Homo sapiens: one gene and its partners. The protein of the gene in region 4 purifies or fractionates together with the protein of the main gene of each other region. This does not show direct contact. Each region holds a gene or a part of one and is shown on either strand. Other genes may lie near its edges.

The links.
Region 1: the proteins of MYLK2 (region 4) and TES purify together in Homo sapiens (affinity purification with mass spectrometry; one large-scale study listed by BioGRID and IntAct). This does not show direct contact.
Region 2: the proteins of MYLK2 (region 4) and RCC1 purify together in Homo sapiens (affinity purification with mass spectrometry; one large-scale study listed by BioGRID and IntAct). This does not show direct contact.
Region 3: the proteins of MYLK2 (region 4) and RALY purify together in Homo sapiens (affinity purification with mass spectrometry; one large-scale study listed by BioGRID and IntAct). This does not show direct contact.

The regions. Positions count from the first base shown.
Region 1 is NC_000007.14:116,217,039-116,220,538, reverse strand, and holds part of TES (testin), read right to left. Parts: intron 1-3,500. UniProt on the Homo sapiens protein: Scaffold protein that may play a role in cell adhesion, cell spreading and in the reorganization of the actin cytoskeleton. Plays a role in the regulation of cell proliferation. May act as a tumor suppressor. Inhibits tumor cell growth.
Region 2 is NC_000001.11:28,533,543-28,537,042, forward strand, and holds part of RCC1 (regulator of chromosome condensation), read left to right. Parts: intron 1-1,507; coding exon 1,508-1,604; intron 1,605-1,715; coding exon 1,716-1,838; intron 1,839-2,328; coding exon 2,329-2,484; intron 2,485-2,719; coding exon 2,720-2,839; intron 2,840-3,204; coding exon 3,205-3,357; intron 3,358-3,500. UniProt on the Homo sapiens protein: Guanine-nucleotide releasing factor that promotes the exchange of Ran-bound GDP by GTP, and thereby plays an important role in RAN-mediated functions in nuclear import and mitosis.
Region 3 is NC_000020.11:34,073,911-34,077,410, forward strand, and holds part of RALY (RNA-binding protein Raly), read left to right. Parts: intron 1-1,963; coding exon 1,964-2,130; intron 2,131-2,791; coding exon 2,792-2,905; intron 2,906-3,117; coding exon 3,118-3,335; intron 3,336-3,500. UniProt on the Homo sapiens protein: RNA-binding protein that acts as a transcriptional cofactor for cholesterol biosynthetic genes in the liver. Binds the lipid-responsive non-coding RNA LeXis and is required for LeXis-mediated effect on cholesterogenesis.
Region 4 is NC_000020.11:31,825,856-31,829,355, forward strand, and holds part of MYLK2 (myosin light chain kinase 2, skeletal/cardiac muscle), read left to right. Parts: intron 1-749; coding exon 750-859; intron 860-941; coding exon 942-1,083; intron 1,084-3,500. UniProt on the Homo sapiens protein: Implicated in the level of global muscle contraction and cardiac function. Phosphorylates a specific serine in the N-terminus of a myosin light chain.

The sequences.
Region 1 (3,500 bases), on a different chromosome or scaffold from region 4:
AAGAAGTACTATCCATGTTTTGCAGATTAGATCTCTGAAACCAAGGAGCAACTGTTGCCAAATTACTGAGTAAATATCAAAGGTGGGATCCAAATCTATGTCTGGAAAAGTCAAAGTCTGCGCTGCTTCCTTTAAATTCCCTAACTGTTAGAGAAAAGTGGGCAACAGTGGTCCACAGGATGATCCTACCCTCTGGCTTAATTTTATCTGGTCCATGAGAAAGTAACAATGAATAACATCACTACTGGTTTACCTGGGACATCTTAAAAGAGCTGTGGAGTTAGGCCACTGAAATCTGTCTTGCCTCTTTTTACCTTTAAATTCTGCCAATTATCTTGGGATAACCTTCTATTCCATTACCAAAGATAGAGTCTAACACATATTATTGGAATGTTCACAGAATATATTTTCCATTTGTTGCAGTATATAAAAGGTAATATTTTGTAATTCCCCTTCAAAACCTTAGGCAACTTGCCATTTCCCAAAGAAATGAGTTTTACATGTCTTCGTTTAACACGGAAGTCACATGACCCGGCTGGAATGAATTTGGAGAGGCCTATGTTTCAAAGCTAACAGAAGAGTGACCAGATTAAAAAAAGGAAACCCTAAATATCAAGTAAGGGATACTGCAAAGTTAACTTTCCTCTACAGTTTTTCAGAATGACCAAAAACTACTCTGCTTTGAAACGTGTAGTCTGATACCATACAGAATATCATCTCAGAATACTCTTGATACATGAAAGATCTTCAGAAAAGTATCCTCAAGCCCCTACATTCAACTGTCCCTCTATAGCACACGTGGTAGACTGAAGTAATGGTCCCAATCCTTCATTCCCACGTAATAGTATTCAACATCATATCCCTGCCCTAGCCTCATAGTTGCTAGACTGGACTTCTCTCCTTGACTTCAGAACTGGACATGTGACTGCTTTGGCATAAGAAGAGGCTTAAAAGGTGCTCCTGCAGTTGGGCATGACCTTTACTGTTGGCTTCACTGATCTAAGAAGGATGAAAACCTGGCAACATTGTGGTCCCAGTCCACAGCTCAGAGTCCAGACCAGCCTAAATGAGCTAGACTCTACTGTGAAATTTCCTCCTCTCTCTCAATAGATGACACAATGTATTAAATAATCATCACAGTTAAGGGAGATCAGAAACTCTTCAGCTGTGGGCTAGGGTCTTATACTAGCTCAGTGACATACCTCTTTAATTCAAACCTGTACTGTGGAAAAATTACAAATTACTGCAGCTCATCTACTTTAGCTTTATTTTAGAAGAGACAAAACTGAAAATGTCAAGGGTGGTTTTACTGACTTTTCACAGCCAGGTACCTTTGGTTCATGCTATTTCCTCTTTATGGAATGCTTTCTTTGCCTAATGAAAGCTTCTTTATTCTATAGGAGGTGTTTCCTTGATAAAATAATCGCAACCCACACAATTAAAGTTAGTTACTTCTGCTTCTAAGACTTCATAACAGTTGTTTGTATTTCTATTATTGCTGTGCTACTCAAAGTGGCAGTTCACAAAGTGTAAGTCACTAGTCTGTGATGAGATAGGCAGAGAAACTGACAGTAGGCAATTAGGAACTACTATATACTTAAAGTAATTTTGTGTCTCTTGCATTTAATAATTTTTTTAATTGGCCCTGTATTTGTCTTTTAAGTAATAAATTTTTATTGTGTTTTTAAAAATATCAACCAATGATTAATTTTTGTTTATAAAAAGGTTCCTCATCCCAGATAAGAAATTGTATTATAGCACTTATGTCATTCTATCCAGCACTGTAGTTAACTTACACATCTGTTTTGCTCACTCATCTTCCTTCCTTTTTTAAAAAAAAATCTATCAAAGGTGACATCGGTATTTTGCTCAAGAGGTGATACTGATAGATATGGAGTTTAGAGTCTGTAGTTTTAAATCTAAACTGCACTTTTAATATTCTCTACGAAAAACAAAGGGTAATTTTTTTAACCCCCAGTTATTTTTATTGTAGGCCAGTATCTCATAAAGGAAAAATCAGATCCTTGATCCTTACTTTGTGACTCATTCTGTTAAGACTGTCACGTTGTGGTCATATAAAAACAAAAATCCACCTAACATCTACATGGTCATTTTTCAATGAAACATGATATCACTTTATCATCAAACAAAGCAAGGGAAAAGTTCATTGTGGCTAGAGATGCATTAATGGACTCCTTATCAAGGCATTTCTGCTGGGCTGAATGCCATCTTTTCTGCTGGGCTCGCTGCTCAGATAAGCTATGCAATGAACACCCTGAAACTCCTGTTTACAGCTTTTCACAGTGGCCAGAATGTCACAATGATAAACACAAGCTGAATCACTCATGGTTTGAGGATAATTCAGCATTTCAGATTAAGTATATTTACAGAGTAGTAACTTTGCTGTCATTCAGCAGATGAGATCTCAGCAATCCCCACTAGGCTGGCTTCTAATAACGCTCTCCCACTTTAAGCCATGCTCAAATCTGAGCCGACTCCCCACCATTCTAACAGACTAAGGAACAGAGAAATTGGCAATTCTAAACTATGCTTTTTTACTTTTTTGAATTTGACCAAAATAAATACAGTGATACTTAGAAAATTATAGTCATGCATATCCTTATCGCTCTAATTCCCCATTATCTAACTAGAATGTTAGGTAGACAGGGCACTTAGAACTGAAAATTGACAAAACCATGCTAAATGGCAGCTCTTTTGTAGGAGAGTCAAAGATTGTAGTTGGGCAGTTGAAAAGCATAACCTCTAAATTTAATCCTCTAATAGTGCTTGAGGCAAATTTTAAACATGGATATTTACTCAAAGAACAGTAGTGAAGTTATCAATTACCAAATTATTTTTCTTTAAAATCCTGAAAATCTGCAGTTTTGCAATGTTTTTGATTAGTCTTTTGTTTCCTTATCTTCCTCTCCTAGAAAAAGTTGATTTCATAATTAATAATATAATTTCTCTGGATACCACCACCTTGTAAAAAGTAAAATAATTTCCTGTATATTAATGATTTAATAAACAATTCTTTTAAAATCATAATTTTGGTTACCATGGCAGTAGTTACCAAACAAAAATTAGCTATGACTGCAAACAGGAAATCCAAGAATGACTCTTTTGTAAGGCATTTGTAGGCAGGGAGAAGACTTATAGTTTGTGTATATTATAGGTGTAAGTCTATTTGTATAGCTTTATGCATTCATAATCTTTTTCACATTCTAATACATAAAAGCTGCTTTCTCATTTTCCCATCTTTTACATTTGCTATTACTTAAGACAAATGAAATAAGAATCCCTAATTACAAAGTTTGCAAAACCAAGAATCAAGCCCAGGGATCACCATCAAAATTGCTCACTGTCTGTGTTAGAAACATAGCGTACTGCTAACCTATCAAGAGTTCACTGACGGGTATAATTCCAGTTGTGCTTACTTTCAATATTTACATTGCTCTATCAACACTTGCAATAGCATAATTCTATGATACAAGCTTAAG
Region 2 (3,500 bases), on a different chromosome or scaffold from region 4:
CTGATCACCTGAGGGGTCGGGAGTTCGAGACCGGCCTGACCAACATGGAGAAACCCTGTCTCTATTAAAATTACAAAATTAGCTGGACATGGTGGTGCATGCCTGTAATCCCAGCTACTCGGGAGGCTGAGGCAGGAGAATTGTTTGAACCTGGGAGGCGGAGGTTGCAGTGAGCCGAGATCGCGCCATTGCACTCCAGCCTGGGCAACAAGAGCGAAACTCTGTCTCAAAAAAAAAAAAAAAAAAAAAAAAAGGAAGTAATCAGAATATCAGAATTATATTTTTTTCTTTTCTTTTCTTTTCTTTTTTTTTTTTTTTTTTTTTTTTTTTTTTTTTTTTTTTTTTTTTTTTTTGAGACAGAGTCTTGCTCTATCACCCAGGTTGGAGTGCAATGACACAATCTCGGCTCAGTGCAACCTCTGCCTCTCGGGCTCAAGCAATTCTCCTTCCTCAGCCTCCCGAGTAGCTGGGATTACAGGCATGCGCCACCACACCTGGTTAATTTTTGTATTTTTAGTAGAGACGGGGTTTCACCATGTTGGCCAGGCTGGTTGTGAATTTCTGATCTCAGGTGATCCGCCCGTCTGGGCCTCCCAGAGTGCTGGATTGCAGGCTTGAGCCGCCACGTCTGGCCTCTTTTCTTTTTTCTTTGTTTTGAGACGGAGTCTCGCTTTGTCGCCCAGGCTGGAGTGCAGTGGCGCGATCTCGGCTCACTGCAAGCTCTGCCTCCCTGATTCACGCCATTCTCCTGCCTCTGTCTCCCGAGTAGCTGGGACTACAGGCGCCCGCTACAACGCCCGGCTAATTTTTTGTATTTTTTGGTAGAGACGGCATTTCACCGTGTTAGCCGGAATGGTCTCGATCTCCTGACCTCGTGATCGCCCGCCTTGGCCTCCCAAAGTGCTGGGATTACAGGCATGAGCCACCGCGCCCGGCCTCTTTTCTTTTTTAATTAGAGACGAGATCCTGCTCTGTCACCCAGGCCAGAGTGCAATGGCATCGTCTTAGCTCATTACAGCCTCAACTTCCTGGGCTCAGGTGATTTCTTCCACCTCAGCCTCGCAAGTAGCTGGTACTAGAGGCTTGTGCCACCACGCCCAGCTAATTTTTGTATTTTTTGTAGGGACGGGGTTTCACCGTGTTGCCCAAGCTGGTCCTGAGCTCAAGCGATCTGCCCACCTGGGCCTACCAAAGTGCTAGGATTACTGGCATGAATTACCATGCCTGGCCCAGAATAGTATATTGAGTGCCCATTTACTTGCCACACAGTTTCAATGATTATCAGCTTGTGGCCAGACTTGTTTATCTCTATTTGCATCCGCTCTCTGACTCCTTGATTATTTTAATGCAAGTCGCAGACCATAAATGATTTCATTCATAAGTATTTGAGTATGTGGCCTGGCTCCTGCCCACTTCTCCATCCCCATCTGGTGCCACTGCCCTTCTGGATTTCACTGGCACGGGGCAGGCAGGACTGGCTGATAAGTGCCCTGTCCCTCCCTTCTAGGACAATAACGGTGTGATTGGACTGTTGGAGCCCATGAAGAAGAGCATGGTGCCTGTGCAGGTGCAGCTGGATGTGCCTGTGGTAAAGGTGGCCTCAGGTGGGTCTGGGGGCACTTGCTCAGGGCAGGAGTTGGAGGACCTTGTTCTGGGGCTGGCCTAGCCTTGGGCCTTACAGTTGTGGCCTGCATCCCTTACCTTTTCATCCTTAGGAAACGACCACTTGGTGATGCTGACAGCTGATGGTGACCTCTACACCTTGGGCTGCGGGGAACAGGGCCAGCTAGGCCGTGTGCCTGAGTTATTTGCCAACCGTGGTGGCCGGCAAGGCCTCGGTAAGTGGCCTTGGTACCTCCAGCAGGGCAAATTGGCAGGCCACCCCCACAGTGAAGGCCAAAGGCAGGAAGGATTTGCTGTGGTCAGGCTTGCATCAGATGGGCTTGTGGTGTTGGTTAGGACTTTGGAGACAGACTGCTCTGGTAGTTTTGCCACCTACTGTCTATGGGACTCTGAACATAGTTTCTTCATCACTAAGTCTACCTACCTGTAAACCTACTTCATTAGGTTGCTGTGAAGTTAAATGAGTTAATGAGAAGAATATCAGGCAGATGGTAAGTTCCACGTAAATGATACCCGTAATGACTGTGGGAATCTGAGCAAGGCACTTGTATTCTCTTGATCTCAGTTTCCTTTTCTATAAAATAGGGATAAGAGTCCCTACTTAGCCTCTCAAGGGCTTTTATAATGGAGGAGAATTAAACTCGGGGCAGAGAGAAGCCATGTGTGTCTGTCTGTCACTGACCGTGGCTTTCCCTTTGCCTGCAGAACGACTCCTGGTCCCCAAGTGTGTGATGCTGAAATCCAGGGGAAGCCGGGGCCACGTGAGATTCCAGGATGCCTTTTGTGGTGCCTATTTCACCTTTGCCATCTCCCATGAGGGCCACGTGTACGGCTTCGGCCTCTCCAACTACCATCAGCTTGGTGAGCCCCGAGCCCAGCTTCAGGCATGACCCAGTGGCCTGCGTTCCTGTCCTGGCTCTGCCACTCATTCATTGTGCATCCTTTGCGGGGTCGTCTAACCCCTCCAAGCCAGTTTTGTCATCTGTAAAGTGAGAATGTCCATATCCTGATGGGAGGTGGCCTCACTGTGGGAGGAGATTGAGAAGGGCAGCTCTCAGAACACCTTCACCCCTGATGGCTCCGGCCTTTCCCCCAGGAACTCCGGGCACAGAATCTTGCTTCATACCCCAGAACCTAACATCCTTCAAGAATTCCACCAAGTCCTGGGTGGGCTTCTCTGGTGGCCAGCACCATACAGTCTGCATGGATTCGGAAGGTAGGGCCTTTACGTCCTTCTCTAGTTTGGGGGTGGAGTGTTCCCTGGCCTAGGCCTAGCCAGATTCCTGAGACCATGGTCCTTGGAGCCTGGGTCTGTTCCATGGGTTGTACCATACATGGGTCCATGAGAGTCACTCTCATCCTCCTAGAGTCCTGGTGTTCTTCCAAGTGTGAGTTCAATGGGGGCCCATGTAGATTCTCCTAGGCCTCCTCCAAAACTGGGAAGAGACACTGCAGATCTCCTTCTGATCGCTCTGGGAGCAGGGACACACTCCCATGGACAGGTGGACTCACCTAGCCTGCCACCCATTTTGCCTGTAGCACGCCCTCTGCTATTGCTCATCTCTCTCCCTCCTCCCATAGGAAAAGCATACAGCCTGGGCCGGGCTGAGTATGGGCGGCTGGGCCTTGGAGAGGGTGCTGAGGAGAAGAGCATACCCACCCTCATCTCCAGGCTGCCTGCTGTCTCCTCGGTGGCTTGTGGGGCCTCTGTGGGGTATGCTGTGACCAAGGATGGTGAGTGGGGCTGCCTACACTCTGTCTAGTTGGGACCTGGGGGTCATGGTTCTTACCCAATTCCCCAATAGGCTGTGATGTCCACTCTCGGGGGAGCCGAGGTACAGAGAGCAGTGTTTGTGATGGCACTTTGTTCCTGCTTC
Region 3 (3,500 bases), 2.2 Mb from region 4:
GAAGGGTCTTGAGAGATTGTTGGTGCAGCCCACTGAGTTCTCCAAATGAGAACCAAAACCCAGAGGTTTGCCTGGGGTTGCTCCACCAGTCGGTAGCAGAGCTGAGACTGGGGTCCTGTGCTGCAGGTGCTCAGGCCAGAGCTCCTACCACCATACAACACTGTCTGCCATGCTAACTGCCCTTTTTCCTTCTTGTCCTTGGGTGAGGCTCAAGGAGACCGTACAGCCAAGAGCTATGTAAGTGTGGCTAGTTGGAATACACAACAGGGTACAGCGCTGGTTGCAGGGAGTTTGAGCCCTTCCCTCTGTGAGGTGCCCAAGCAGCTGGTAGGAGCCCCAGAGCTCAGTCTAAGCTTCTTGGGTTTATATTTAGAGACAAGAGGCCAGCAGCCATTTGGAAGTCTAATTAGTCCCTGGCGGGCTGTGGTCTACCCTGCACTCCCAAGCCCTACCCAGACTCCAGCCCAGAGGCTGTGGGCTCCCACTACAACAGCACTAGCCACATTCTTGAGTAGAAATCATGGTAGATACTAACTCAAATCTCTCCTCCTCCCTGCTTCTCTCCCTCTGTCCAGCTTAGCCCACCCCAGGCAGCCCAAGAAGAACAGTGCCTCTCTGAGCATGAGTCGTCCGCCCCCATCCCCACCCCGCCCCTGTGAGTCGTTTCAGGAGACAGTGTGGTGTAGTGGAAAGTGTCTTAGCCTGGGGGTCAGAAGATTTAGATGCTAATCTCAGCTCTGCCACTGAATGGATTATGTGATCTTGGGCAAATTCCCTTCCCAGTTTGTGAAATGGGCTTGCACCAAGTGATCTCTCCAGGCTCCTCCAGCTCTGGGATTCTGTGGTTCAGTGATTCTGACCAAGGCCAGAGCCGTTCCCTCCCCTTGGGGGCAGAAATGCAGGGTCTGGGATCGGATCCATTCCCAGAGACTCTCCATCTGCAGCCATCACCACCTCCAGGAAGGGGCTCCCTGAACAAAGGAGCCCCAAGGAATGGGGCTTTTGCCCAGTGATGGCAGGTTTCCTGGCCGTTGTCAGGAAAATTGACCCAAAGTTTACCCCCTGGGCTGCGATTCCCTGAAAAAGGTGGCAGCAACAGATGTCAGAGAGACCACTTCTCAGCCTACTGAGTTTCTGCCTGGTCAGCTGGAAAGGAAGCCCTCCTAGAGAGGGCTTGGAGATGACTTTGGTTGGGGGCAGTGCACAGCCTGGGAGCCCTGGGGGGGTCTGATTGAGCTGCCCAACCTTGATACTCTACCAAGCCCCTGGCCTTTGTCTCTGGAATGGAGCACGAAGGATGTGGTGATTAAGGAGGTCAAGTAAGGAAAGGGCTTAGAGTTCAGTCTTATGCCTCTGAGGTCATGGGTTCGTGAATTGAGGGTCTCAGTACCCTGACCTTTCATCTATTACACGTTCTAAAGTGTGTTTTTAACCGAATTCTTTCATGCTGTGCCCTTGGGTGGACACTGAATGTGGATAGCCATCCTCATTTGGCATATGGGGAAACTGAGGCTCAGGTAGGCTCAGTTGACCCCCACTCCCATACCTCTCTATTCCTAGCTGGGGATTTGTGCTGCTTTGAGATTTGCAAACTCTGAGCAGAGGTTGGGGTGGCAGTTGACCAAGCAGAAGCCAGGTCATGTAATAGAGCAGGCCTGGGTGCCAGGGGACCTAGGGATGTCTCCTCTTTTGAATGGGGTATAACTGCTACCACCTGATGCCTTGCCTGCCCTTACTGGGCCTGGATGGTTGGAGAGGTTGTAGTGAGGTAGTGAGGATCCCAACAGCCATCAGGGTCCGGCAAGCCCTTCCTCTTCACTCCAGGGCTTGCTAGGAGCCAGCAGAGGTGTGTAGTGCAGGCCTCCCAGCCCCTCACCAGCCACACACGTTTGTAGCCGGAGCTGCAATACCGCCCTGGTGGCCACAAGCCATGCTGCAGCCTCTGGCCCATCTGCCCTCACAGGCTCTTCGACTACCGGGGCCGTCTGTCGCCCGTGCCAGTGCCCAGGGCGGTCCCTGTGAAGCGACCCCGGGTCACAGTCCCTTTGGTCCGGCGTGTCAAAACTAACGTACCTGTCAAGCTCTTTGCCCGCTCCACAGCTGTCACCACCAGCTCAGCCAAGATCAAGTGTGAGTGACTGTATCATATTCCTAAGTAATTTGCATTTTTATCATTAGCAAAATAATAGAATCACATTTTTTACATTGGAACATAGATAAAACAACAAGTCTTCCACAGTTCTGCTGCTCTAACACAGCCAAGTATTTTCATGCATTTCTAAGAGGAAACAGCTGATGTTTTAGGAGGAGGGGTTGTGTTGGGCACAGAGAGTCCAGTGCTGGATATGGTGCCCAGTGAAGAAATGGTGCCATCTTTCCTCTAGTAAGGATAAGGACAGGTCTACCCAGGCCCATTACTCCACATTCACTCTGGTACACACATGCTGCTTAACTAATCACCCAGGAATTCAGATTCCAAAAGACACATGTTCTTGCTCAGGTGCACACAGAAGAGCACACCACACATACACACCTGTGCTCCTGTCTGTCTTTGGTCCCTTTCAGAGTTGAGAGATCAGGAGAAAAGATAGCCAGGTTCAGAAGTGTGTGCTGTCACTGTAGGGATGGACGCCAGGTAGTCTAAGGAGGAGACCTTTTTCCTAAGCAGGGAAAAAACAAAACAAAACAAAAAATAACTGCTTTCCTGGTTGAAAGAACAGGGCTGAGGTTTTGTGCTAGTGTCAAGCCTCCAGCCCCCTAGGTGACAGCCCTGTCCCCCCTCCACTCCCAGTAAAGAGCAGTGAGCTGCAGGCCATCAAGACGGAGCTGACACAGATCAAGTCCAATATCGATGCCCTGCTGAGCCGCTTGGAGCAGATCGCTGCGGAGCAAAAGGCCAATCCAGGTCAGCCTCTGAGGATTCTCACCCACCTCCATGACCAGGGCACAGGGCAGAGCATGGGGAAATAGTACATGGGAGAGAGGAGCTAGGGTGGCCCTGCAGATCCTGGACCACCTGCACTCACCATGCTGAGGCCAGCTTCCGCTAAGGTGCTGCCCTAGACAGCTACCCCAGGCTGAGTTTTATTCTCCCCTCCTCCACCCCTTCCCCTCAAGATGGCAAGAAGAAGGGTGATGGAGGTGGCGCCGGCGGCGGCGGCGGTGGTGGTGGCAGCGGTGGCGGTGGCAGTGGTGGTGGCGGTGGCGGTGGCAGCAGCCGGCCACCAGCCCCCCAAGAGAACACAACTTCTGAGGCAGGCCTGCCCCAGGGGGAAGCACGGACCCGAGACGACGGCGATGAGGAAGGGCTCCTGACACACAGCGAGGAAGAGCTGGTGAGGGCCTGGCCAGGGGCACGACTGGGACTCGACTGTGCTCCTACTCTCAGGAGGCCAACAGGGGAATGGGCAGCCTGAGCTGGTTGCCCCCACTGTGAACTTCCTGTTCTCTCCTTCCCAGGGGTTCTGGTCCTGGGGGAAAGAGGGAAGAATGAGCAGGGG
Region 4 (3,500 bases):
ATCAGCCTACCGATGTGACAGCTGGCTTGCGACTTTCTGAAAGTGACAAATAATGGTGTCTTAAACTAGGAAGGCAGTGGTGGAGGAGGTGCGAATGATTGGATGTATAATCTAGCTTGAAGGTAGATGATGCTGAAGAGTTGGGTCGGAGGTGGGGTGTGAGGGCGCGAGAGTAAGGGAAGAACTTAGGATGGCTCGTAACTTTTTGTCCTGCACCCTTGGGTGAAGCGTGGGGGTACTTTTGCTGCCAGGCAAGCCGAGAGCAACTCAATTGTGGGGAAGGGACGATGTCTAAGGTCTAATTTTGGACATGATAGATTTGAGATGTCTATTAGACAACTAAGGCAAGTAGACAGTTGGAGATATTGGAGTCTAGAATTCAATGGAGTGCTCAGAGGTTGAGATGTATATTTGGAAATTGATGACTTTGGATAAAATGTAAAGTCATGAGACTTTATGCAGATGCCCAGGGAGAGAGCAGAGAGAGGGAAGCGGTGAGGGGGGAGGATGGAGATCTTGGCATGTCAGTACTCAGGAGAAGAGCCGGCAAAAGGAAGATGTCCCAGCAGGCATGACTTGGGAGTGGTGAGGACCACAGATGTGGGGGTGGGGGAGAGAGGAGAGGCAAGGAGGAGGCTGAGCAGTGATCTGGGCAAGGCTAGCAGGCCTGTTCAAGGGTGCGGGTATGGAGGGTGGGTGGCAGGGAGTGATGGTGCCCAGCTGGTACCCTTGACTTCCCTGGTCCCCAGGAAATGGTGTTGCTGGAGATTGAGGTCATGAACCAGCTGAACCACCGCAATCTGATCCAGCTGTATGCAGCCATCGAGACTCCGCATGAGATCGTCCTGTTCATGGAGTAGTGAGTGCCCGAAGTAGTGGTAGGGGCTGGGTGGGGGTACCACCAGGCACGGAGCAAGCCGTGGAGGGGTCTGTGCACACAGCATCGAGGGCGGAGAGCTCTTCGAGAGGATTGTGGATGAGGACTACCATCTGACCGAGGTGGACACCATGGTGTTTGTCAGGCAGATCTGTGACGGGATCCTCTTCATGCACAAGATGAGGGTTTTGCACCTGGACCTCAAGGTACCAGACTGGGGCCTCCTGGGAAGGGTCAGGGGCAGCCTCCGACCCCCTGAGATCAGTGCTGTCACCAGCCATCCCTCTGCCCTCCCATCCCTCCATCTCTTCCTTCATCCATCCTTCCCTTCATAGATTCAGAAAGGGTTTATGGAATACTTACCAAGTGCCAGGAGCCGGGGGCACAGCAAAGAGAGAGAGGGGGGGAAAAAAAAAAGACGTGGTACCAGCTTTCATGGAACTTCTAGTCTAGTACTAAGTATTTGTTGAAAGGGCCTTTTGCAGTCCTGTGAGCCCCAAGCTCAGTGTGTCACACAGACAAGTGGCTAATAAGTGTTGCAATAGCACCTGCCTCAGCCTTGGCCCATGATAGGTACTAGGAGTGTCTGATCATTTATTCAAAAGCAACAAATATTTCTTGAGGGCCTACTTTATGCCAGGCAATGCTCTAGGTGGTGGAGATCCTGTGGTGAACCAAACAGATAAAAATCCCTGCATTCTTGGAGCTCTCAAATAAGTATAGTGTCAGCGTGGCAATGTGCATGAGGTAGGCGCTAACAACAATGTTTCGTGAAAGAATATTGATATCCTTCTTCTTTTTTTTGAGATAGAGTCTCACTCTGTTGCCCAGGCTGGAGTGCAGTGGCGCTATCTTGGCTCACTGCAACCTCCGCCTCCTGGGTTCAAGCGATTCTCCTGCCTCAGCCTCCCGAGTAGCTGGGATTACAGACACCTGCCACCACACCCAGCTAATTTTTGCAGTTTTAGTAGAGACAGGGTTTCACCATGTTGGCCAGGCTGATCTTGAACTCCAGACCTCAAGTGATCCGCCCACCTCGGCCTCCCAAAGTGCTGGGATTACAGACATGAGCCACTGTTCCCGGCCTGATATCCCTCTTCTGACCTTGCTCACTACCATGCACATGGTAGGTCAGGAAGAGCAGATCTGCTTTTTTTTTTTTTTTTTTTTTGAGACAGAAAGTCTTGGTCTGTTGGCCAGGCTGGAGTGCAGTGGTGTGATCTTGGCTTACTGCAACCTCTGTCTCCTGGGCTCAAGCAATTCTTTTGCCTCAGCCTCCCGAGTAGCTGGGATTACAGGCGTGTGCCACCATGCCCGGCTAATTTTTGTATTTTTAGTGGAGACGGGGTTTCGCCATGCTGGTCAGGCTGGTCTTGAACTCCTGACCTCAGGTGATCTGCCTGCCTCAGCCTCCCAAAGTGCTGGGATTACATGTGTGAGCCACCGTGCCTGGCCACAGATAGGTGTATACATTGCAGCAACTCCAGTCAGTTGTCCGTAGCTGTCCGGAGCTGAGTGTGGAGCTCTGGGTGTGGAGCAGGGAAGGGCAGCAGGAGTGCAGGGGGTTGGCAGTCCTCATGGCAGGTGTTAATGCTGTGCGTTAAGTGGCGGGACATGGAATCTTAATGTGGAGGCGCGTGAGCACCCATCAGCAAAGTGGATGGTACTTTCATTCATTCATTCCATAAGCATATGCTGGGTACTTTCCTTAATTCATTCGATAAGCACGTGCTGGGTACCTGCTCCTGGAAGGCCCCGTGCTAGGCATAGGGACTGTGAAGGAAATGGTCCCTGTCTCATGGAGCCTCCAGGGGAAACAGACATTCATAAAACAATTCCTAACTAAATAGGTCATTTTAAGCCATGAAAAGTGTTTGAGAAAATACACGAGAGTAATGCGGAATCGCACTGGGTGAAATTGAAGTCAGCACGGGTCTGAAGCAGGCAGGGAGATGCTGTTGCCGCCTCTAACACCTGTCCCAGTTTTGCTCTGTGCCCGACACTGTCTGAGTGAGGGTGCCATCTTCCCAACAGTCCCCTGGGTTAGGTGTGTTAATATCACTGCCACTGACAGAGGAGGACACAAACAGGGTGAGGAGGTGGGTTTCAGTGGGGCCAGAGTGGATGCAGGGAATTTAGAGGCTGATGGAGTAAGTAAGCCAGGAGAGAGATGCCAGGGGCTTGAGCCAGAGTGGCAGTGGGAGAGGGGAGGGAAAGGGGCCAGATGGAGGATACATTTTGGAAATAGAGCCAATCTGATGTGCTGAGGGTTTGCATGTGTGAGGGTTAGGAAAAGAAAGGATCAAGGGTGAGTCCTGAGTTACTGGACAGATGGTGGCCCCTTCACTGAGCTGGGGGCAGTTGGTGCCTGCATGATGACATTGGAAGACTGCCTTTCCCTAGTGAAGGCTAATTTCTTTGGGGCAGAATAGGGTCCCCCAATTAAAATGCAGTGCTCTGGGAAGAAGCTCAGTCGTGAGCCTCTGTATCCTAAAATGTGTTTTTTTCAGGATAATAATACGTTTTTTGTCAAAAAAAGTGTTTCACGGTCAAGTAGGTTGAGTGCACCCCAGCCCACAGGCCATGTCCTGGGTCTCTTGGCTGCAGGGCTTCTGAGGGCCTC